6 separate regions of the Homo sapiens genome follow, and all the other regions are reported to be linked to region 1. The links are microRNA targets in miRTarBase. Many come from high-throughput screens and were not tested one by one. Region 1 holds a microRNA gene; each other region holds the end of a gene's coding sequence.

Evidence for each region. The annotated mature microRNA hsa-miR-5011-5p reads UAUAUAUACAGCCAUGCACUC and lies in region 1 at 2,361-2,381, opposite strand. An mRNA with a match to its seed (bases 2 to 7 or 8) in the 3' UTR can be bound and repressed. Matches are read on the target gene's strand: a 7mer-m8 pairs with bases 2 to 8, a 7mer-A1 pairs with bases 2 to 7 and ends in A, and an 8mer does both.
Region 2: miRTarBase lists USP25 as a target of hsa-miR-5011-5p. Seed matches in the 3' UTR shown: 8mer at 2,466-2,473, 7mer-A1 at 2,456-2,462, 8mer at 2,434-2,441, 8mer at 2,432-2,439, 7mer-m8 at 2,431-2,437 and 7mer-A1 at 2,396-2,402.
Region 3: miRTarBase lists PTP4A2 as a target of hsa-miR-5011-5p. Seed matches in the 3' UTR shown: 7mer-A1 at 1,495-1,501, 8mer at 1,496-1,503, 8mer at 1,498-1,505, 8mer at 1,500-1,507, 8mer at 1,502-1,509, 8mer at 1,504-1,511 and 34 more.
Region 4: the mRNA of BEX4 is a reported target of hsa-miR-5011-5p. Seed matches in the 3' UTR shown: 8mer at 2,846-2,853 and 8mer at 2,844-2,851.
Region 5: miRTarBase lists LRP6 as a target of hsa-miR-5011-5p. Seed matches in the 3' UTR shown: 7mer-m8 at 3,362-3,368, 8mer at 2,453-2,460, 8mer at 2,451-2,458, 8mer at 2,449-2,456, 8mer at 2,447-2,454, 8mer at 2,445-2,452 and 19 more.
Region 6: the mRNA of ARHGAP21 is a reported target of hsa-miR-5011-5p. Seed matches in the 3' UTR shown: 7mer-A1 at 3,108-3,114, 8mer at 3,106-3,113, 8mer at 3,104-3,111, 8mer at 3,102-3,109, 8mer at 3,100-3,107, 8mer at 3,098-3,105 and 2 more.

The regions. Positions count from the first base shown.
Region 1 is chr18:67,079,895-67,083,987 of GRCh38, reverse strand. It overlaps MIR5011 (microRNA 5011), which reads right to left and starts at 2,404; the gene lies at 2,302-2,404.
Region 2 is chr21:15,877,697-15,881,789 of GRCh38, reverse strand. It overlaps USP25 (ubiquitin specific peptidase 25), which reads right to left. Exons shown (of 26, transcript NM_001283041.3): 25 at 3,799-3,994; 26 at 1,726-3,487. The coding sequence ends at 3,315. Among named protein-coding and RNA genes, the nearest start is that of USP25, 150 kb to the right of the region's middle.
Region 3 is chr1:31,905,625-31,909,701 of GRCh38, reverse strand. It overlaps PTP4A2 (protein tyrosine phosphatase 4A2), which reads left to right. Exons shown (of 6, transcript NM_080391.4): 6 at 742-3,281. The coding sequence ends at 850. Among named protein-coding and RNA genes, the nearest start is that of PTP4A2, 31 kb to the left of the region's middle.
Region 4 is chrX:103,215,906-103,219,998 of GRCh38, reverse strand. BEX4 (brain expressed X-linked 4) reads right to left here. Exons shown (of 3, transcript NM_001080425.4): 3 at 2,753-3,850. The coding sequence starts at 3,845. The coding sequence ends at 3,483. Among named protein-coding and RNA genes, the nearest start is that of BEX4, 2.8 kb to the right of the region's middle.
Region 5 is chr12:12,117,584-12,121,667 of GRCh38, forward strand. LRP6 (LDL receptor related protein 6) reads right to left here. Exons shown (of 23, transcript NM_002336.3): 23 at 1-3,837. The coding sequence ends at 3,543. Among named protein-coding and RNA genes, the nearest start is that of MIR1244-4, 7.7 kb to the left of the region's middle.
Region 6 is chr10:24,581,128-24,585,220 of GRCh38, forward strand. ARHGAP21 (Rho GTPase activating protein 21) reads right to left here. Exons shown (of 26, transcript NM_020824.4): 26 at 2,487-4,093. The coding sequence ends at 3,285. Among named protein-coding and RNA genes, the nearest start is that of ARHGAP21, 140 kb to the right of the region's middle.

The DNA.
Region 1 (4,093 bases):
CTGAACAGACATTTCTTAAAATAAGATATAAAGATGGCCAACAGATACATGAAAAACTGCTCAACATCACTAATGATCAGGGAAGTGTATATAATAGAATGGCTATAATAAAAAGAAAAAAAGCAGCCAGGCGCAGTGCCTCAAGCCTGTAATCCCAGCACTTTGGTAGACTGAGGCTGGCGGATCACCTGAGGTCAGGAGTTCGAGACCAGCCTGGTTAACATGGTGAAACTCCGTCTCTACTGAAAATACAAAAAATTAGCCGGATGTGGTTGCACGTACCTGTAGTCCAGCTACTTGGGAGGCTGAGGCAGAAGAATTGCCTGATCCCAAGAGGCAGAGGTTGCAGTGAGCCAAGGTCACGCCATTGAACTCCAGCCTGGGCAACAGAGCGAGACCTGATACTCTGCCTCAAAAAAAAAAGTAACATGCTGGCAAGGATGTGGAGAAAAAGCAAGTCTTGTGTTTTGTACACTGTTAATGGAAATGCAAATTAGTTCAGTAATTATGGAAAATAGTATGGAAGTTCCTCAAAAAACTAAAAATAAAACCACCATATGATATAGCAATCCCATTACTAGGTATTTACCCAAAGAAAATAAATCAATTATAGAAGACGTATCTGTATCTCCATATTTATTGCAGCACTATTCGTGATAGCCAAGATAAGGAATCAAGCTAAATGTTCTTTAAAAGATGAACAGTTGAGGAAATTGTGGCATATATATACAATACAATAATATCCAGTCATGAAAAATAAAATTCTGTCATTCTGCCATTCACAGATAAACCTGGAAGGTATTATGTTAGGTGAGATAAGTCAGGCACAGAAAGATAAACACTGCATGTTCTCTCATATGTGGGAGTTAAAAAATGAGCTTATAGAAGTATAGAGTAGAATTATGGTAATCACAGTTTGATAATGTTATTAAAGACAGAGAAAGGTTGATTAATGGATACAAAGTCACAGCTAGACAGGAGGAATAAGTTCTAGTGTTCTATAGCACTATAGGGTAAGCATAGTTAATAATAATTTATAGTGTATATTAAAAAAACTAGAAGAGATTTGGAATATTCCAAACATGAAGAAATGATAAATGTTTGAGGTGATGTTTATCCTAATTACTCTGATTTGATCATTACACTTCATATACATTTATCAAAATATCACTCTGCAGATTATAAATACATACAATTAATATGTGTAAACTAAAATGCAAAGGAAGAAAAACCCAACAAAGCAATTTCTCCACACGTTACCTAATCCACAACAAATGGCTTCTGAAGTTTACCTCAAGTAAAGGCCATAAATATGACTCTTTAAGGTAGAAATCTTAGAAGTAAGAGTTACTTAGCTTAATGCCCTCTAGGTTTATCCATATGTATTTCATTGTAGTGTTAGTAGCAATAAAGTATAGAAACGACCTAATTGCTCATTGAATGGTGACTGATAGTGTTACATATACAGCCATGCACTGTGTATTGCATCAGTCAACAAAAAACCACATATATAAATGTGGTCCAATAAGATTACGATACTGTGTTTTTAGTGTAATTTTTCTTTGTTTTGGTATGTTTAGATGTACGGATGCTATTGTGTTACAATTGCCTATAGCATTCAGTATAATAATAAGCTATACAGAGTTGTAGCCTAGGAGATACAGTCTATGTCATATTGTCTAAGTGTGTAGTACGTTACACTGCTGTGGGACAGGCAAGGCCCCAAACTGGGGCTTAGCCAGGGAGGATTTCTTGCTTAACCCCGGAAAAAATTCAAGGATGAGCTAGGAGTCTTAGCAATCGTTTATTGAATGGTACTGCTCCTTGCAGAGCAGGGCTAAATCATAGGCAGTGCAATCAGAGTCAGCAACATATGGTCTCTTGGCAACGGTATTTATACTCAGCGAGACCCACATTCAATTGCATGCAAATTGAGGGGTGAGCCAATGCAAATTGAGGGGCAGGTTGTTTAGAACTTTCTAAGGCAGGTCAAATGCATGCAAATTGAGGGGTGAGCCAATGCAAATTGAGGGGCAGGTTGTTTAGAACTTTCTAAGGCAGGGGCAGTAACTTTTAGGTTGTTGCCATGGAAAGAGGTGGTAACTTCTGGGTTGTGTTGCCAGGCTGCTCATATTGCTCATTAGCATAAGACACTACCACCAGCACCATGACAATTAAATTGCAATGAGTAGTTAGAGATTGCTTTTGTTGACATCTGCCACTTCCTATCAGTTTCTTCACTTCATGCTCTCTGGCCAGATCCTGTTTTGGTTAGCAGGGTTGTGACCAAAAAAAAGTCCTGCTGAAAGATGAATGGATAGTGTTATATATACAGCCATGCACTGTGTACCCAAACTACAGAGTGCATGGCTGTATATATAACAGCATCCACTCAATACCATCTAGGTTTGGATAAGGACACTCCATGATGTTCAAACAATGATAAAATTGCCTTAAGGTACATTTCCCTGTTAAGCAATGCATGACTGTGTGTGTGTATATATGTATATGACCATGAAATATTATTCAGCCTTAAAATAGAAGGGGATTCTGCCATATGAGGCAACATGAAAGAAATAAGTTCTATTGTTGGGGGTGAATAGCCATGAGAGTGGAGAAGGCCATCAGTTAATCCATGGTTTGTGGCATTGGCCAAGCATGACAAGCAGTGAAACCATATTCAAATATGGAATCAACTTTTCTGACGATGACAACAAACAACTGTTGGCTTTACTATACAAGTCAGAGGCAATTGTAAGGCTCTTTGTTGTTTAATGCCCCACAGGTAAAACTTTTCTGTCCAGGGAATATTCTAGAGCAATACTGTGCAAGAGACCATTGTGTGATAACACGTGTTCTACCCTTGCATAGTCCAATATAGTAGCCTGTAGCCACATGTGCCTTTGAGTATTTCAAATACAGCTAACACAATGGAGGGACTGACTTTTTAATTATTTTAATGTTTAGTTAATTAAACATTAAAATTAACTTTAAATAGCCAAGTGTAGCTCCAAGAAACATCTGGAGCTACCAGGAACTGGAAGAGATAAGAAAGAATTGTCTCCTAGAATCCTGGATTAAATGCAATCCTGCCGACACCCGAGTTTGAACTGGCTTCTAGAACTGGGGGAGAATACATTTCTGTTCTTTTAGCCATTTGTTTTATGCTAATCTGTTATGGCAGCCTGAGGAAACTAAAACAGATGGCTTCGGGGAGAAATTTGAAACAGAAGCAAGAAGTAAAAACAGTAAGAAACAAACAAGTATGTATTCATCACAGAGGTACAGAAATTAACCATCAAATATCCCAGGCCCTAGGGGAGGAAGTGCCACGGTGGCAGCAGCGCTATCTCATCAGACTGTTCCTGTGGGGGGATTTTACTGCCATTCTGGAACCTGGTTTCCATGGGGCTGCCCTGTTCTGAGCCTGTTTCTTTAGCCTTCCAATAATTATATGATTTATCCAATATAATCTATTACCTGGTTTAGGTCAATTGGAATGGATTTCAGTCATCTACAACCAAGAACACTGACAGGTATACTAACACCTGTCAGATAGTATTGTGAATTGTGGGGAAAGTGTTCCTAAACATGACAAAACACAAGAAAGCATTAAAAAATGGTGACAGATATGAGTATTTATGAGTTAGTTAATAAACATATATGACAATTTATATGGAAAACAAAGTATGTGATGCATGATGGATTAGGAAAACATACAATATATGTAACGAAATGATATACAATGTCAATATTTATTTTTAAGAAGCAATACTAAATTACAAAATAAAATATATACAATTCTATAGGAATAGAATGCAAATTACCAATACATACATGAAAATTAGAAAACTTTTGCAATTAGAAAAATATAAATCAAAACAATAGTGTTATACTACTTTTTTCTGAAATTAAATTGCAAAATTAATATATCCAAAGATACTCAACATGATCCATATTAGACATGGATGTGTGAAGAAGGCACTCCAATCTAGGTTTTTAAGGATATAAATTTGTAAAGCCGTGTCTCAAGAATGTGTGACAATAATTCATGAGTGGCAATTTAGTATACGTTAAGCTTTGATCCAGGTAA
Region 2 (4,093 bases), not on the chromosome of region 1:
ACAGTACAAGGCAACAGTAACCAAAACAGCATGGTGCTGTTACAAGAACAGACACATAGAGACCAATGGAACAGAATAGAGAACTCGGAAATAAGACCACACACCTACCTATAGCCATCTGATCTTCTACAAACCTGACAAAAACAAATAATGGGAAAAATATTTCTTATTTAATAAATGGTGCTAGGAGAACTGACTAGCCATATGCAGAAAACTGAAACTGGACACCTTCCTTACACCATATACAAAAATCAACTCAAGATGGATTAAAGACTTAAATTTAAAACTCAAAACTATAAAAACGCTAGAAGAAAACCTAGGCAATACCATTCAGGACATAGGAATGGGCAAAGATTGCATGACGAAGTGTCAAAAGCAATTGCAACAAAAGCAAAAACTGACACACGGGATCTGATTAAACTAAAGAACTTCTGCATGGCAAAACTAACAACAGAGTAAAAAAGACAACCTACAGAATGGGAGACAATTTTTACAATCTGTGCATATGACAAAGGTCTCATATGCAGCATCTATAAAGAACTTATGATATTGACAAGAAAAAAGAAAACCCATTAAAAAGTGGGCAAACGACATGAACAGACACTTCTCAAAAGAAGACATACATGAGGCCAACAAGTATATGAAAAAAAGCTCAGTATCACTGATCATTAGAGAAATGCAAATCAAAACCACAATGAGACACCACCTCACACCAGTCAGAATGGCTATTATTAAAAGTCATAAAAACAACAGATGGTAGCGAGGTTATGGAGAAAAAGGAACACTTTTACACTGTTGGTGGAAGTGTAAATTAGTTCAACCATTGTGAAAGACTGTGATGGTTCCTCAAAGACCTAAAGAGAGAAATACCATTTGAGCCAGCAAACCCGTAACTGGATATATGCTCAAAGGAATGCAAATTGTTCTCTTATAAAAACATGCACGTGTATGTTCACTGCAGCACTATTCACAATAGCAAAGGCATGGAATCTAACCTAAATGCCAGTCAGTGATAGACTGGATAAAGAAAACGTACATATACGCCATGGAATACTATGCAGTCATAAAAAGGAATGGGATCATGTCCTTTGCAGGGACACAGATGAAGCTGGAGATCATTATCCTGAACAAACTAACATAGGAACAGAAAACCAACTACTGCATGTTCTCATAAGCGGGAGCTAAACGATAAGAACATATTGGACTCAATGGTGGAAGGAACAACACACACTGGTGTCTGGCAGAGGGTGGGGGCTGGGAGGAGGAAGAGGATCAGTTAGAATAGCTAGTGGATGCTGGGGTTAATACCTGGGTGATGGGATGATTTGTGCAGCAAACCACCATGACACACATGTACCTCTGTAAGAAACCTGCATGTCCTGCACATGGACCCCTGAACTTAAAAGTTGGAAATTTAAAAAAAAAAAAAAAAAGAAATTTCAATGATCTAAACCTTACAATTAGATTAAAAACCAATATTAAAATAAGTTGTTTCTGTAGGTCTTGAAAAAGGTCACTTTTCTTTAAATAAGTTATTTCAAATTCATTACTAGGAATAAATAATCTGGTTTTTAAGTACATAGTAAATACAATTATAATACTTACCTTCAGCACAAGAGTGACATGATTCTCTGGATGTGACTTTGAAGGAATAATTTCCATATAGTGTTTGGGCACTTTGTATCTCAGCAGTCAATTATACACAAACACAAACAACTTTACCACTGTGGTAGAATGTCATAAAATATTAAGGATACTTTCTTTACAAAAGCTGTGATGACACATATGAAGTTTCTAAACTTTTAACAGGACTGGAAAACCAATGCAGAAATCTGCTCAGTAGACAACTTAAAATCTAAACCCAAACATATTTTGATAGATACAATATGCAAAATCTAACTTTACAACAGGAATAGTACTAATTCCTTGTCATTAACACCTTACTAGTACATTAATACCTTTACAAACAGCATCATATAATAGCATAATATTTCATCTTACTCCTCCATCCAGGATCTTTTGTGAGAGGCACTAATAAAGAACACTAGTTTTGGCGACGCTGTATCAAACATACACATAGTATAATGGTCTATTTTACTATGTTCACAAAACATCATTTATAAAGAAATTTTTATGAATTCAAAAATAGGTTGTTAGTAACATGATTACCTTTAAAGTATGGATTTTGATTTTCATTCACAATATTAATTCATTAATCTTAAACAGTAGTTTCATCTACAAAATGTTCTACAGCTTTTTCCTTTTTGAAAAGGAATAAAGGCAGTTAAGATACTCATAACTTCTAGTTAAACAACATCAATTTTGTTTCACAGTATTAATTAGTAGAGAACATTTTCAATTAAAGTGATATACAATTTACAAAAATAGAATGATTTATATATTGCAAAACATTGTCCTCCATTATGAAGAATATATATATACATGTGTGTATGTGTATATATGTGTATATATAAATATTTCTTTTAAATTTTACAATAGCCCTTATTCAAGTACTTTGGGATTCTCTTGAAATAATCACCTTGCTGTATATTGTAAATACATTTAAAAAGTAAGATTAATCTAAGAAAAGGATAAAAGTTTCAGTGTAGTTTGACTTAAAAAAAATCAACCACTTACTTGAGTAAAAACCTGACTGAATTCAAAACAGGTTCCGGTGCCATACTAAGTTCAAGAACTTTGTTAAAAATATAGATAAATTTAAGTGTCAAAGACTTAAACATTTTCCAATTTGCTAGCATTAGAGCAGAATTAAAAGATTGTATTAATCTATTAACTATCCAATCTTAATCCCCAGACAAAATTCATTTATCTAGTATTACTAATACACTAATATACAATATACCTGCTTACAAACACATAGGTAGCCATAAATAAAACTTTATTCTTTATTTCATTTACAAGCTACCAAATATTATGTATCGTACACAGTGCTGAACACTTAAATGGCTGTAGTCATGGAAGGATCCAGACTGAATGGAAAGCTGTTGAGAAAGAAAAGATAAAAGCAAAGTAATACTGCAACAGGAAGGTGGCAAAAGCATAGTTTTGCCATAATAAAATCAATTAGATTTGTGATTATACATCAGTTCCGGTTAAAATGTCTGAGCGCCATGCGATTTTCAGCTTTATTGTCTGCAGTCTGACTAAAGTCTGTATAGTCATTTTGTCTTTTGCAGTTATTAAAATAAAAAAAAGTTAAAAACTATAGCAGCAACAAGCAAACCCTGTGACAGGAAGGCAAGGGTTAAGAACTAAAAAGAGTTTATACAGTGTGTTCAGGGAAAGTGTGCAGTTTATCTTCCATCAGCAGGAGTTCGACTGAGGGACAACATGATTCGGGCAAATCGCTCACAGAGTTCATGCGTGGAATATGAAGGTAACTTCGGTGGCTCATGGAAACTTTTAATCTCCATAGAACAATCAAGCAGTTTTGGCAAAAAATCTGTCAGCTTTTCTTGGAGGTGTGCTGCAAATACAAACAATTAAATCTAACTAAAGATAGAAATTATTACACGATCATTGTCAACATGATTTACTAATATTAACTTACTCTAATAGGTAAGATAATTGCCATTTTGGGGAGACAAAAACATAAATGGCAACTGCAATGCACACAGCTTAGTTCATCAATATGGAAAAAGAGTAATCATGTGAATGTGAAAATATTAATACTTAATATTGTATTTAATATAAAAAATGGCAAGAATAAATAACATCTAATTCTAACTGCATTTAATCCGGACATCTCAGGTGCCTACTACCATTGTTTAAACTTACGTTCCATTTCTTGACCAAGGTAGGAACACCATCGATTTCTCATATCTTCTACAGCTAGTATATCCTTTTCTTCCATTTCATCCACCAGTAATAATGGCAAAAATGGGACAATAAACTCATTCATGATAATCAAACCATTGTTTACTTCTCGATCCTCTCCAGATTCGAAGAGTTCTGCGGCTTGCTCATTTAATTTCTTAATGCAATGCAGGAAAAAAAAAAGAATAGGTTTTTGTTTCCTTTTTAAATTAAGGATCTGTAAGTATTAATAAGGAAGACAACATAAATATGTTCA
Region 3 (4,077 bases), not on the chromosome of region 1:
TAATCACCTGAGACTCTTTTTTTTTTTTTTGAGATGGAGTCTCGCTCTGTTGCTCAAGCTGGAGTGCAGTGGCTCAATCTCGGCTCACTGCAACCTCTGCCTCCTGGGTTCAAGCGATTCTACTGCCTCAGCCTCTCAAGTAGCTGGGACTACAGGCACGCACCACCACGCCCAGCTAATTTTTGTATTTTTAGTAGACGGGGTTTCACCATGTTGGCCAGGATGATCTCAATCTCCTGATCTCGTGATCCGCCCACCTCGGCCTCCCAAAGTGCTGGGATTACAGGCGTGAGCCACCACGCCTGGCCTCACCTGGGACTCTTAAGTGATCTATTCAGGGACAAAATCAGGATGGTAGTGCACAGACAGGATCTTGACATTGATCTGGAATAACGAATCATGCTATTTTGTTATCCAGAATTCTTTGACAATTTTTGTCTTGCCCTTTCCCTTTCAACCCTTCCTTTAAAAAAAGAAAACGAAAGTAGAAACTATTCTGATCTTTATTAAATGGTTAATAGACTATAATGACAGTCAGCAAGAAAAATTTTTCTATTCCTTCTAGGAGGGCTTAGAAAGTTCATGTTGCAACTTAGCTCTTTAAGAATTGTTGTAGTATGGGAAATATGCTGGTTTTCAGCTGTGTGGAATTAGAAAGGCTTTAGGATGTAAATAATGCATTTCAGTGAATCAGACAGCTCTTTTTTTACATGATAAAGTTTGCCATTCTTGTATTTTCAGAAAAAGAAGGGGAGCGTTCAATTCCAAACAGCTGCTTTATTTGGAGAAATACCGACCTAAGATGCGATTACGCTTCAGAGATACCAATGGGCATTGCTGTGTTCAGTAGAAGGAAATGTAAACGAAGGCTGACTTGATTGTGCCATTTAGAGGGAACTCTTGGTACCTGGAAATGTGAATCTGGAATATTACCTGTGTCATCAAAGTAGTGATGGATTCAGTACTCCTCAACCACTCTCCTAATGATTGGAACAAAAGCAAACAAAAAAGAAATCTCTCTATAAAATGAATAAAATGTTTAAGAAAAGAGAAAGAGAAAAGGAATTAATTCAGTGAAGGATGATTTTGCTCCTAGTTTTGGAGTTTGAATTTCTGCCAGGATTGAATTATTTTGAAATCTCCTGTCTTTTTAAACTTTTTCAAAATAGGTCTCTAAGGAAAACCAGCAGAACATTAGCCTGTGCAAAACCATCTGTTTGGGGAGCACACTCTTCCATTATGCTTGGCACATAGATCTCCCTGTGGTGGGATTTTTTTTTTCCCTTTTTTTGTGGGGGAGGGTTGGTGGTATATTTTTCCCCTCTTTTTTCCTTCCTCTCCTACATCTCCCTTTTCCCCCGATCCAAGTTGTAGATGGAATAGAAGCCCTTGTTGCTGTAGATGTGCGTGCAGTCTGGCAGCCTTAAGCCCACCTGGGCACTTTTAGATAAAAAAAAAAAAAAAACAAAAAACAACACCAAAAAAACAGCAGTGATATATATATATATATATATATATATATATATATATATATATATATATATATATATATATATATATAATATAATATATATATATATATATATATTTTCCAGGTGGTTTTTAGTCTTTACTGATGAAAGGGTGTTCATGTTAGTTTCTTCAAAACCCTATCTAATACTAGGCAAAGTAGCCAAGAGCCTTTTGTTTTGTTTTTATTTTGATAAATTAGTGGAGAAATGGCATTTTAAGAGGAGTCTCTTCTCAACTTACCTGAGAGTCGAATTCTTCTCTTCCCTAACCAATGAAGCTAAGTGGTTATCCCAGAAACTTGTCTTCTAAAAGGGAGGACTCCAGGCCATCAATAAAGATGTCCAGGCAGTGAGCGTACTTTTTACACCCTGTAGAATTGTGGGCTGTAGCGTTACTCTGATTTTCTGTCTAGTATCAGAGAATGCTGGTAGCTTAAAATTTTTATTTTAGGACTTGTACTCTGAATTTTCAGGAACCGTCAAAGGAGCAGCAGCAAATTCACATATTTTCGACTTGAGAAATGCTTGTGGTATGTGTTTTCCAAACTGCCCCCTATATGTAAAGTTCAGTTTAACCACTGATTGCCTTGTTATTACTAGGTTTTTTGAGATTAAAAAAAAAAAATCCCTGGTTTAAAACCAACAATGATGCCTAGTGAGTATGTGTCCACAGGCCATAACAGGGTAGAAGAGAGACATCGTGCAACCCAATGAGTAGTGAAGGGACTGTGTTGCTTGTGAAGCGGTGTAGTAGCATTTTTGCAGATTCTTGGCTGGGTTTAGTGTACTGATCTAGAAAAGCTGTTTTTCTGCTCCTTTGTGGAAGGCAGTTATGATCAGGCTGCATGGACAAAGCAGGTAGAGGGGCACCATCAGGGGCTCTTGCACTATTTTCACCTCTAAATATTACGTACTCAGTAGTGCCCTGCTTCTAGGGCTCTGAATACGGGCTTAAAGTCATCTTGTCCTGCTGGAATTTGCTGTGCAGAGCCATAAGCCTCCCATTTTGTTAGCGTCAGCTAGGCCAATAGGAACAGACCGGGACCTTGTCTCACACTGATGATACCTCACATGTTGACCGGCTATGTGAACTGCCTATTTCCTATGCTGGAGTTTTGATTTTTAACTAAACGCAAATCTGTAGATTCTCTCCTCTCCCATCCCAGAAAACAAAACAAAATAATGCTTTTCGAAATTGTTTCTAGGACTTTAAAACATAATGGTATATCCAAAATTCTTTATTTCAGAATGCAACAATAGATTCCATTAATATAGACTCAAGATCAAAACAGCATACCTGCTAAGCTAAGATAGATGGTGTTGATTCCACTGGGTTTTGATCAATACAATAACAAACCTTTTTCCTTTGACATACTCTGAATTTTGTTGTTTGGGGGGAGGGGGTGTGTGTGTGTGTGTGTGTGTGTGTGTGTGTATGTGTGTGTGTGTGTGTGCACGCGCAGTGTCCATCAGTATCAGTGCCTGCCTGAGTTAGGAAAATTACATTCCTGGTTCTGTATTGAGGAGAAGGATGTATAAAGCAACATGAAACATTAGCCCTCCTTTTATTTTAAAGACTAATGTTAATTGTTCTTAAAACTGGATTTTTTTTCCTTAAAGCAATTTTTTTCTTTTCGATTTAATGAAGTATTGCTAGCTGAAGCCAGTTTGACATAGAGAGATGTCAGATTGATTTGAAAGGTGTGCAGCCTGATTTAAAACCAAACCCTGAACCCTTTTAAAGAACAATAAAACATATTTTACACGCTCTTTGTGCATTTTTTTCCTCCATCCTCAAGAGTTTATGTCTGTGCTTATAAAGCGGAGTTTAAGCTGGGTGCAGTGGCTCATGCCTATAATCCCAGCACTTCGGAAGGCCAAGGCAGGCGGATCACTTGAGCCCCAGGAGTTCAAGACCAGCCTGGGTAATGTGTTGAGTCCATCTCTACAAAAAAAAAATGTTTAATAATTAGCTGGGCATGGTGGTGTGTGCTTGCAGTCTCAGCTACTTGGGAGGCTGAGGTGAGAGGAACACTTGAGCCCAAGAGGTTGAGGCTGTAGTGAGCTGTGATCATGCCACTATACTCCAGCCTTGGTGACAGACACCCTGTCCCAAAACAACAACAACAAAACCAAAATTTCACTTACATCTGTTCCCCTTTCTTTGCCTGCTATTTTCAAGGACTGTTTTGGGTCCTGCTAGTTTACTGCAAGGAGGTAAAATAGAGGCTTGGAAATTCAAAGATTTTATGTCACTGAGGTGTTCAGGAAGAGCCAACTTAACCATAGCTGGGATACATCTAGTACATTTTCTGGTTCAGTTCTTGTATACAACCCTGTAGGAATTCAGCATCTTGTCAAAGGCTTGGTTTATACCATAGATTATTATTTTTTAGAGACAGAGTCGTGTAGTGCTTCCCAGGCTGGAGTGCAGTGGCTATTCACAGAGTCAATAATCGCATATACTATGGCCATTCTGAGTAGTCTCTCACTGCACCCAGCTTATTTATACCATAGGTTTTGGTGAAGCATTGCAACTTTGTACTTGAATTCGTATTAAAGAACA
Region 4 (4,093 bases), not on the chromosome of region 1:
ACAATTCTGGATGCTGTGAAGTTCAAGACTGGGTGTTGGTAGATTCCGTGTCTGATGAAGGCCTGCTTCCTGGTTCACAGAAAAGGTGAAGGAGCTCTTTGGGGTCTCTCTCTCTCTTTTTTTTTTTTTTTTTTTTGAGACGGAGTCTTGCTTGCTGTGTCACCAGGCTGGTGCAGTGGCATGATCTCGGCTCACTGCAACCTCTGCCTCCCGGGTTCAAGCGATTCCCCTGCCTCAGCCTCCCCAGTAGCTGGGACTACAGGTGCGCACCACCACGCTTGACTAATTTTTTATATTTTAGTAGAAATGGGGTTTCACCATGTTGGCCAGGATGGTCTCGATCTCCTGACCTCGTGATCTGCCTGCCTCAGCCTCCCAAAGTGTTGGAATTACAGGCGTGAGCCACCACGCCCAGTCTGGGGTCTCTTTTATAAGGGTACTGATCCTATTCATGAGGACTCTGCCTTCATGACCTAATTCCCCCCAAAAAGCGCCACCTTCTAATACCATCACCTTGGGAATTAGGTTTTCAACATTTTAATTTTAGGAGGGACACAAATATTCGGTCCATAACACTGGCCTTTTTAAAGACTTCTTCAGTGATATCTCCAATTTCTGTAATATGAAGACAGCAGCATATGCTGCTGTGTAAGATTAGACTGACTCTCCTCTTCTCAGAGGTCTTGTCAGTCTTTCTCCTCTTAAGTTCTGGAAGATTTGCCAGGCATTAGTTGACAGGCATCCTTCCCAAGCTTTGCTCCAAAATCCATAAAAACATGCACATTTTCCTCAAGAAACTAAAATTTTACAAATATGAATGTATAAACCACTGATAGGGATGAATGTGTTAGCCCTTTTTCTTCACTCTTGGTTTATTTGCTTTTGTTGGTTTTTATAAAAGAGTCATTATACTTTCTTGCTAGTCTCTTTAGAGGCATTCACTGACATCTCTCTGTTGTCACCTTAAAAAGACAAAATGTATTGCCCACCAAGATCAAGGAAAGTTGACCCTCCCATGGGATGTATAAATGTGTTCGCTGTGATAGCTCTGTTCTTCTTCAGTCACCTGATCCAGCCCCCTCTAGCTTTTTCTAGAAAGTTCTCTCTTTACTCCTCCACCCTTGCAGCAACACAGAGGTAAGGGAGTTTTCTTCAGTTCTTCAATCACGCTCCTGATCATGTTCTGGTCACTGAACGTTATGTCCTCTAAAGTTTTGTGCTCGTCGCCTACCATCACAGAAACTCCCACGATAGGAGTCTTAATTTAGTTCTCCTTCAACCAATTACATTGTGACCCCGTTCCCTGACCTTTACCATTTCCAGCAAATTCTGTTCTTATCATCCCACTCTCCCAGAAACACCAAGGAGACAGGGCTCATTTTGGTACTTCAAAAAACCATATTCTGAACCCAAGCATTGACACTTTTATTTCTTCCAGAAAGTCTGTCCTTATTCCTCATTCTCCCCCAAAAACCCCAGTGAGGAGGCTTCAGCTTTCTTTCAACTAATCATGTTCTGATCTCACACCCCCACAGCTAGCTTTTTTTGTGAGGGAGGTAGATTGAGGCTACTTTGGGAAATCCACAATTGGTCTTTGCCAGAAGGCATAGTACTCATTTTCAGAGGAACCAAAAGATCATTCATGGACTCTACTCAGTCAACTAGCCTTTTTGAAGTGCCTGAGTTCACCACTGTGCATTTTCAAATCAGACTCTATATCATCCTCTTCCTCTAGACAGGTGAAAGATCACTCCAGCTCCAAAATTATCTGAGGCAGAGTTTCCCTTAAATGTGGTTCTCAGTTGAACATGCAGGAATTCTGATGACTAAATAGTGTGAAGTTCATATAAAGTGATTTTTGCATAAGTTGTATATGCTTTTCCATTTACACTGATTGGCAATCAGTACATAATGCAAAAATTTCCAAATAATTCTTTGTGGAGGCAATGTGGTGAGAAGACAAGCACCCTGAAGCACCAAGGCTGTGGTCACAGCTTTCACTAATTGGCTGTATGACCTTAGGAAAAATCGCTTTCTTAACAATTCTTCACTTGTGAAACCAAGTTTGCACCAAATAAGTGATTTTCATTCTTTTTTCACTGTGATCTAGTTAGAAATACATCATAAAGGTGGCAATATTTACTACATAGAACACATTATTTTCTCCAAAACAATTCTTAACACTACTCACGGGTGATAGGATGACTTTTGTTCTCTTTTTAAAAAATTGCTTGTTGTAACCCACAAAACTGATTTCAAGAGCCATAGAGTGGCAATCCTAACTTTGAACAACACTAGAGGATCTTACTTTTTTTATCCCTCAATATTCTAAAAATTAAAGTGTACTTGAGATGTAGAAAAACAGTGTATAGAAAAACAGCCCCATTCTTGCTGAGTCTCTTTTACCATCCTCAGCTTGTCATCAAGTTACAAAAGTCAAATATTCTGCATCTCCAGATGATAAGGTCCAATAGAAAATGGCCCAGGCTGGATTCCCCCACCCCCAAGATATTCAGCAGGAGTTAGCCTTGGTACTTAACATCTCTAAGCCCCAGTGACCTCATCTGTAAAAGTGGGATAACAATACAGATTTTATAGGTTGTTCTAAGAATAAAATGAGATCCTGGATGTGAAACTGCTGACAGGGGTGATGAATTCTGAGTTCCTCAGGCTGTGACCTTCAGGCATGTTTTGCTTTGCACAGTGAATAACTTTGCCACTGTCCCTACCACTCCTATAATCATCAGTCTTATTTTAAGGTCTCATACTTTTCTTTTTTAATTACTTGCCCATCAAAGTCAGATTTATCTTGATATTGTTTATTGTTTACGGTTATGACACATTATATATATACACACACACACATATGTATATAGTTACGTACACACACACCAATGGCACTGATTTTGGTACACATCAGAATTACTTAAGAGAGTTTGTTAAAAATGGAGATTCTGGAGCCCCACTCTGTGAGTCTGGACGATAGGTCCTACATTTTTAAATGCCCCTGCCTGCCCCCAAGGTGTTTTTATACAGATGGTAGACTCACTCTGAAAAACACTAGAACATACATTCTTAAAATATCAAACATTGAATTCTGGGTATGATCATTCTTTTTTGGTCAGGGACAAGAAAAAAACTGTCAAAGACAACTGAGATTTTGAGTCCAGGTAGCCGGAGGAGGAAAAGTAATACTTACAAAAATAAGGACTGGAATGAAAAAGGAAGATGATGGAATACAGACTGCTTTTTGAACTGCTTTATGCATTTCATATTATGAAAAGAGTATTTTTCCTAAAATAGGTGAATTGCCATGCTGACCGTAACTTTTAGGCTGAGACAAAACAATATTCAATTAGAATTCTAATTTCCATTAGAAACTGGTAAGTGTAAACCCCAAAAGGCTTACAGAAAAAGTAAATCACAAAAATACAAGCTTGTAAAGCAGTGTTCACATTAACCTCAGCGAAAACTTTTAGGATTCAAGGTATGAGGCAAAAGTCATAATGGTTGTCAGGTTCAGGAGTTTGGAAGCGCATATAGTGCCTCATCTGCTGTTCCCTAGTCTTTCTCTTGATTTCCATCATCTGCCCTACAAACCTTTCTACATCATCTCTCGCTTCATTGTGCTCAATATGCCTATTAGGTATGGCCCATCGAAAATTAGGGACAAGTCGCCTAACTCGCCCCCGCCTGATATTTCCTCCAGGCTTCTGGCCTTCACCCCCTCCCAAATGGCGGGATTCTTCTTCATTCTGCGTGGGGGCCTGCTCCCCTCCTTCGTTTTCTTGTTGGGCATTTTCCCCGTTGAGATTGTTTGCCGCTAGTTCCTCTTTGGACTCCATTACTCCTAGGAGACAAGAGAGAGAAAATGGGCTGAATTCTTGGTGGACTGATAAGCACTGAGGACAGAGGCCCTACTAGGCACCTTTTAAAATTCAGAGCCCTGGACTTGACTTTATACTCTAACATTTCATTTTTTTCCACCTGAGAAGCCAGTATGCCCTGTGGGGTGCCCTCAATCCGAGCCCCTCCCTTCCGCAAAGCCCACCATTTTCCCTGTAGATCCATCTCCAGGCTTCCGCAGGCAGCA
Region 5 (4,084 bases), not on the chromosome of region 1:
GCTGCAGCCTGTTTACTGCATAGAAGTAGGCGTGCTTAACGCATACCTCTTCAGTCTCTATTATGACTACTGGTATCAAGTCACATAAATAAACACACTTCATTAACACACTAGGTAAGCTACAGCTATTAACTCTACTGGAAGTATTCTTCATTAATAGGGCTTTATAGCAAAAGAAAAAGATGATCCTCCAAAACTGCTACCTAATACAGATGATGGCTATTTTTAATACCTTCAATAATGAATGAGTTTCCTTCATATAAATTACTGACTTTAGGATATTTTTAAATGATAAAGAAATACAACCCTCAAAATCATCTTAAAATTGTACTGCTCAAAGCCCCTTCCCCCAATTACTGGCCTATATTAGATTAAAATGTACTTTAAAGTCTTCATTTCTAAGTACCTATCATCTCTGTAGAATAGGTGTTCTCAAACTTACTAAAGAATCAGAGATCTCTTGGTAATGTATCACAAGCTACTTTTATATTAAAATTAAAGTAACTACATAATCTTCTGCTAAACAGATATCTTGTGATATGCTGTAAGAGTGGCAGAAAGTGCCAAAGGCATAATAAAATTTCATGGAAGAAAAATTAATAGTCAGAAAATTCTATCCACCAACTCTCTTTGTTTCCCTGTGAATGTGCTATTATCTGACTTAAGCAAACAAAACTCCTTAAGTCACTATTCAGAAGACCACGACTCTGTTGGAGCAAAGTCCAGGCCTTAGTTATAAAAGACCACTTCAATGCAGAATAGCTTACTGTGGTGCACACAAAGTATGTTATGCTCAAGTTTATTTCTTGGACAATTTTAATCACATCAGTTAGTGCATATATTTTAGGACACATGTTCAAAATAAATACTTTTGCATATAAGGAATCTAATGAAACATTATTCATTTTCCCCCTTGGACAATGAATTTAATACACCAAATTTAAAAATCCCTTTTCTTTTTTCCCCCTAATTTGTGATCTCATGCTTTTCCTCTCAACTTTTCCAATTACAGCTTGTGTTTGATAATCAATATACAGTTTACTTAAGCTTAACTGTCCATGTAACCTAAGGCTCAATAAATCTTTCCAAATTTGACAATTCTCTCATTAAAAAGTACTCCCAGAAATATTAAGAATCCATCTCATCTACCCCAGAAAGAGAACACTGAGATTAGGCTGAACTGCCTTCAAATAATTTTAAACAAATTGGCACACAAATTAGTATTTTGAAGAAGAGGCCATTGCCATCGCAGTGCAAGCACGTGGACTGAGATCCAACAAGGCAATATTCTTCTTAGTTAATTAGAGTGCAAGTCTCCACATGGGAAGCCCACCAGATCAAGATGCACATTTAAATATGTAAACATATAGAATTCTCAAATTCTAACTGACACCCAGGTATTGCTAACCTTTCCATCTTCATTTAAGCATCAAGTGCCCTGTGTATCACAGAATCCAAGTTCAATGTCCATTTTGTCTGACACTGTGGGCACTTAGTTCCAGCAATGGGAAGAGTTCATGCTTGTCTGTTTTAGGATTCTGATAGATTTACCATTTGCTTATATGCAAAATCAAGTGCACCTGATTCTTACAGTCTCCAACAATCAGCATTATTCTGAAACCACAATTTTATCTTCAAAAACTTTACTTAGGTATTTTTAACTTGCATGAACAGTTACTTCACCCTTGCCCAAATTCTGAATCCTTTCTTCCACTGTTTTCTCTTGGGCCCTGAAACCCAGAGAGGCCTTGGCAAGACAGAATTAAAAAAGAAAAAAAAAAAATTCAATAATTAACTGACCAACACCTCTTAAGCTAAAAATACATTAGTTTAAAACCATTCAATTTTAGCAGAGAAGTGCTACACATGTGTAAAAAGCAGGAAACGAACTTCTGGCAAGGTGGCAGAGCAAGTGCTAGAATCATTCCACAGGTCAGCCCTGATAGCTCAAGATGTAGCAGCCCCAGTACCATACATGACAGCAGGTCAGGCAGATCACAAAAGAGGCTTCCATTATTCCCTTCCACCCAAATTCTGACAGCTGAGAAGTTAACAGTTTGCCTTCTCATTTAATCCTCATTGTTAAATTTGTTAAACTATCTTAATCCATAATGGGTAAGAGAGGACCCACATAAAAATATTGGGTGATTACAAGAATAATTTGTGGATAATTTGAAAACAGCCTAACATTCACAGTGGGTAACAGAAAGATATTAAATTCATGTCACACATTAGAAGAGGTATGTATGTAGACATTATTCTGAGAAAAACCGGTCTAAAGAACATGAAAACATCACAAACTGTTAATATAGGGAAAATCCTAATAAGAAAAAAATCTTTTTAAATAGATTGTCTCTAACCAGAACATATTTAAATGTTTTACTCAGAAAACAAACAAACAAACAAAATATATATATATATATATATATATATATATATATATATATATATATATATATAAATGATTTCGTACTGTGATATATGCTGAAAGTAGTGCAAGGATATGAGATTTACAACAAAAACATAATGGTTAAATTTTTAATTCTTAAACATTGTCTATATGTGTTGTAAAAAGACATTTTAATGAGCATTAAAACAATCTTGGAAGAAGAGAAATAATATGTCTAACTTTTGATCATTATGCAAAAACAGCAGTCAAATTGAAGAGCTAAGCCTACTGGGGAATGGAGCTAGAAGAAATATTAAAATCAAGTTTAATTTAGAAAATTCCATTTAGTCAATGCTTCAGCTTAAAAAAATCATGGTATCTTAGCAAAATGACTTACCAAGTTGCTGGAGGAGGCAGCAAGGTAAACATACCTAGAGAAAAAAATTCATTTTGACAGAGGTATGGATTCTAAAGGTAGGGACAGAGACTTGCACACACACACAGCTTCATGGCATCTTACCAGAGGGCTGATCTCTCCTACAACAGCAACACCCAGAATGGGTTTTTAGAAATATCTACTTTCCTCACTAGCACTGTTGGATTCCTAGAGAAAACAAAGCCCTTCGTCCAAGGTTAGTATTAATTGCATTTTTTTCCTTTCATCATTTCTTACTTGTTGGCCCTCAAATGTTAGTTAACTGAAGGCTATCTGGCTACATCCATGTATCTATGGTTTGCTGCTCTGAGATGGACTTAATTTTTCTTCTTCCTCTTTTTTATTTTTGGTATCAATAAAGCCCAGATATTCCTGGTCAGTGATGCCTTTATTATTCCTGTTTCCTTTGTACTCAGTTGCTTCACTGGGTTTAAGGCATGCTTTGTGTATTTAGTTTGCAAAAATAAAACTTTTAGTACAAATTTTTTTTATACAAACTTTTATGGCACAAGCAGCAAATCTGCTGTTTTAAGAAAATATATAAATATCCTTTTCTTCTGTACAAATATCTCCAGTATTCCCTACCCCATTTTATAATTTTAACTGTACATGGTCTGCCTCATCCTTCTCTAATAGCTCCCTCCCCCCCTCCAGATCTCAACCAAATTTATATTTACATTTTTACGTTGGAGGCAGTCAGAGGAGGAGGGCCCCTCCTCAGGAGGAGTCTGTACAGGGAGAGGGTGGCGGTGGGTAGAGGTGATGAGAATAGCTCCTCTCTGTGTATGGAGAAGGTGGGCAGCTTTCATAGTTCTCCTCTGCTGACAAGTATTGGCTTCGGGGTGTGGGAGGTGGGGGCACAGGTTCTGAATCATAGTTCAAGTCACTGGTATAGCCCTTGGCTGTTGCCACTGAGGTCATTCTCCGACTAGGAGCATAGTCACTGTCACAAACATCTGTGCTGCAGGGTGTGGTGGGGGGTGCAAAGTGCCGGTAGCTATATGGCCTGTAGCTGGTATAGGGAGAAAATAAAGAGAAGCAGTTAGTTTTACAAAAAAAAATGATTTCCCCTCTCAGAATAGAGGTATTAGATGTCAACTACCCTATGAAAACAATAAGCTACTGCAATTTAAATTTACACAGACCAAGAGGCAATTTTCAATGGCAGATTCGCTGAGGAAAATAGCAGGTACTTTCTTATTTGCAAATAAGAAAGTGGCAAGTGAAAATGAACAGGATGGGAATGCAGAGGTGAATTC
Region 6 (4,093 bases), not on the chromosome of region 1:
ATTTGACAAAACCTAGTAAAGCTGCAATGTGCCAGGTCGGTGCAGTGGCTCACACCTGTAATCGCAGCACTTTGGGAGACCAAGACAGGCAAATCGCTTGAGCCCAGGCATTTGAGACCAGCCTGGGCAACATGATGAAACCTGGTCTCTACAAAAAAATACACAAAGTAGAATCCAATTTAAATTATATTCAGTTAAGTCAAGGATGTCCATGAAAAGAACATATAAATATGCTAATAGGAGGAAATGGTATAATAAAAATATTAATCCAAAAGAGGCAAGAAACAAGAGAAAAGGGTAGGTAAAATGCCCTGGTCATGGAGAAAATGAATGGTTCAGCTGTAGATGTGAATCCAAACACATAAATAATCATATTAAATGTAACTGGGTTACATATTCCAACTAAGAGACTATGTTTAAAGAAAATCTATATGCTGTTATGAGAAAAATACAAAAGGATTAATACGGATGGAAATGATGTATTATGCAAATACTAACCAAAAGTAACTAATATAGCTACATTAATATATAAAATAAGGTAATAAAGCTTTGGTTGAGACTCATTATGAAGGACATTTCATAATAGAAGGGTCAATCTACCACAAAGACGTAACAATTCTAAATTTATGTTCACTTAGTAAACTAACTTCAAAATAAAAGATTGACATAAAAGATATGCAAATCTACATTCATATCATAATATTCTATCACTTCTCAGGAACTGGTAAGAGCCAGGGAAGAAATCTATAATGATCTAGATCTGTAAAACATGATTAAATTTGACCTAATACACCAAATAAAAAGCATCCAGTAAGGATAGAAACATATTCTTTTCAAGTAGACGTGTTATTTCTCAAAATTGACCATATAGTGGGGTCAAAATGGATGTCTCAATTTCAAATGTATGTTTAATGATAATGTAACATTATGCTGGAGTCAACATAACCAGAAAGTTTTCAAATGTTTGGAAATTAAGCAATACATTGCTAAATAACTCACAGGTTAAAGAAAAAAATCAGAATGCAAACTAGAAAGCATTTTGAAATGAATGATAATAAAAATACAGCATATAGCCTTAAAATGAAGATATTAGAAAACAACTAAAAATCAATTTTCCAAGCAATCGTCTCAAGAAATTAAAAAGTCGAGCAAATTATAGCCAAAGAAAGGTTGGGCGTGGTGACTCATGCCGGTAATCCCAGTACTTTGGGAGGCCAAGGCGGGCGGATCGCTTTGAGCCTCGGAGTTTGAGATGAGCCTGGGCAACATGGAGAAAGCCCATCTCTACAAAAAATACAAAAAAAAAAAAGTTAGCTGGGCATGGTGGCATGTGCCTGTCAGTCGCAGCTCTGCAGTGAACTGTGATGATCGTACCACTGTACTCCAGCCTGGGCAATAGACTGATAGTGAGACTCTCTCTCAAAAGAAAAAAAAATATAGAAAAAATGAGGAGCAAGAACAAATAATATAAAACTATTTGAGCCTTGAAAGTAACTTTTAAAACATATAAGTAAAAAGTGTTTTTGACACTTTTAATAATACACTGCAAGAACTCCCCCTCATGTAAACTAAGGGAAGTGTGTGCTTTGTTTTGTTCAAAACTTTAAAAGCAGAGCATGACTCCTAGTAAAATCTCATCGCCAGCAGCAAACTATTCATGGTACCATCTCCATGTGTAGTTACCATTGTTAGTGACTCTATATACTGGAGCAAACATCTGACTATTCCATTATATTATTTTCATGATGTAGTTGTACCTGAGCATTTGCATATTGAAAAATTTATTTTATTATAAATCACTTTCATTTTTCTTTTATAATAGGGGATTATGGTCTATATCATAACATACTCAATGTAAAGTTATATTTAGATATATTATGAATTTCATGATGGTAAAGGGGAAATCTCAAAATACTTTTAAGAAAGTATCATGTTTGACAGTTGACAATCTCTGGATTTGATGACTGTTAAGGTCCTTCTCAGCCTTAACAGTCTGAGATTTTTTTGTAACCATTACTTCCAACAATAGCTTTGTTCTATTTTGAAACTAGTGTGTGGCAGGCACTGTAAGTGGAACAGTATCTCATTTAAATCTAATCACCCTTATAATAGGTAGTGTTACTGTAACTAACTGTTTATATGAGAAAACAAATTCAGAGAAGTTAAATAATGTGTTCAAGTTCACATACCTAGGTAGAGCTGGACTGACTCCAAACTCATGTTCGTTTCACTCACGAAAAGAACATTAACATAACATACATTACTTTACCTAGAAGAGTTAAACACTATCAGTCAACAAGTGAGGTTAGGCTAATGTAAGCATCTGTAAGAAAGAGTCTCTACCCACCACAGCAAGAAAGAGGAGAAGATGGAATGTATAAATATAGTAGGCACCTTTTTAAAGTCAGGACCAATTAATCATGTAAGGTAGTTATAAATGGATGACATCTAAAAATATATCAGAATAAGTTTCAAGCCATGCAAAATTCACCAAAACAATTTTTATTTCCAGTGTTTAATTGGGTATGCACACAGGCATGACACAGGTTTGGATTCATTAAGTCCTCATGCAGAATTATATTCTTCTCGATAAAGAAGCCAGTTCCATCCAGGATCCACTATCTACACACCTATGTTACAACATTATATCAAATCTGGTATCTGAAGAAAAGATACACATTTAATATGTTCATTTAAGTTACGTATTTTACAGAAAGATTAAAAATTCAAGTCACACAAAACTCAAAAACTGTATTAAAAGTTTGAATATAAAACTCAGATCCACCTGGAATGACTAAAGAATGGAAGTTCTGTATCCACCTGTGTTAAAACTGGTAAATGTAATGATATCTGTTACCAATAAAACGCATTCGTTTATTCAATGTAAGTAAGTTATCTAATTTTAACAATATGGCACCCTAAAAACCAACTGTATTTTTATGATGAGGCACTTTTGTTAGTGATGAAACCAAAAGAACAAATTTGCTGCACACTGATGCCAGCGATTTTCTTCAGTGATTTTGGGTATATGCTATGTAGTAAGTTGCAACAAATACCTTGCTCATTTGTATACAACTATCCGATATATTTTTAAATATATATATATATATATATGTTCTTCTGGCTGTAGTAATGCACTGTAAAGCTATTTCACAGTGCAAAATGATGAAACCAGCCCAAATGAAGGCTGCATAATAACAATTCTGATACAAGAAAATATTGACAGAGTTACTGGAACGTGTAACAGTAGTTTTTTTACTTGCTAGAGTGGACATACCCCCAGTTTAAAGACAGGGATGAAACTCTGCTTTACTGCCTGGGGTTTCAGACAGTTTATGAGGTTGGGCATTCGCTGCAGAACTAGCATTTTTGCTCACGTTCTGGAAGCTTTCTCCGTTTATTTGGTCAGGTGACTGTGGTGGTATGGAAAGAAGGGGCCTGTTTGTTGAAGCCAAGGTGCTGGAAGAACTGCCTGTGTTGCAATGAAGAGACAAAGGTGTGTCGGTCGTGGCTATTTCTCGTGTGCTTGGGTTCTCTGTCTGGGGATCTCCGATTTCTCCTCTGCTAAGGTCAGAGGTACTGGTGCGTAGGCGTTCCCTGGCCAGCCAGTCTGAGATGGAAAGGTCCTGGGCTGAGCATTTTGGTTTTAACCGGTTTACAGCTGAAAGTTCAGATTCTCTCTCCCCGCTCTGCTCATGCACTTTCCAAAAATTCAAAACGCTGATTTCGGTAGCATCTCTGTGCCCTCCTAGTGTATGTCTGCGCCGGATGCTTTTCCTTTTAGCAGTCTCGGCATTCACTTTGTGATTCCCTACTCCAAACATGTCATCCGCAGGGGCTCTGGGTCTCAGTTTTAACCGATCTGCTATTTTCGTTTTCCATGTGGGTTCCTGTTTTTCGGATTCGCCTCTGGTGGGTGTCAGTAAACTCCCAGTTGACTTTCCTTTTTTCATAACATCAAACACTTTAGTTAACGAAGGTGCTTCTTTCTCATTCTTGGCATCTCCTAGACTTCCACTATCTGACTTGAATCTAGCTGATTTTTTCCTGGAAAGAGTATCACATTCGATGAGTTTATGGGAACTGAAGAGCT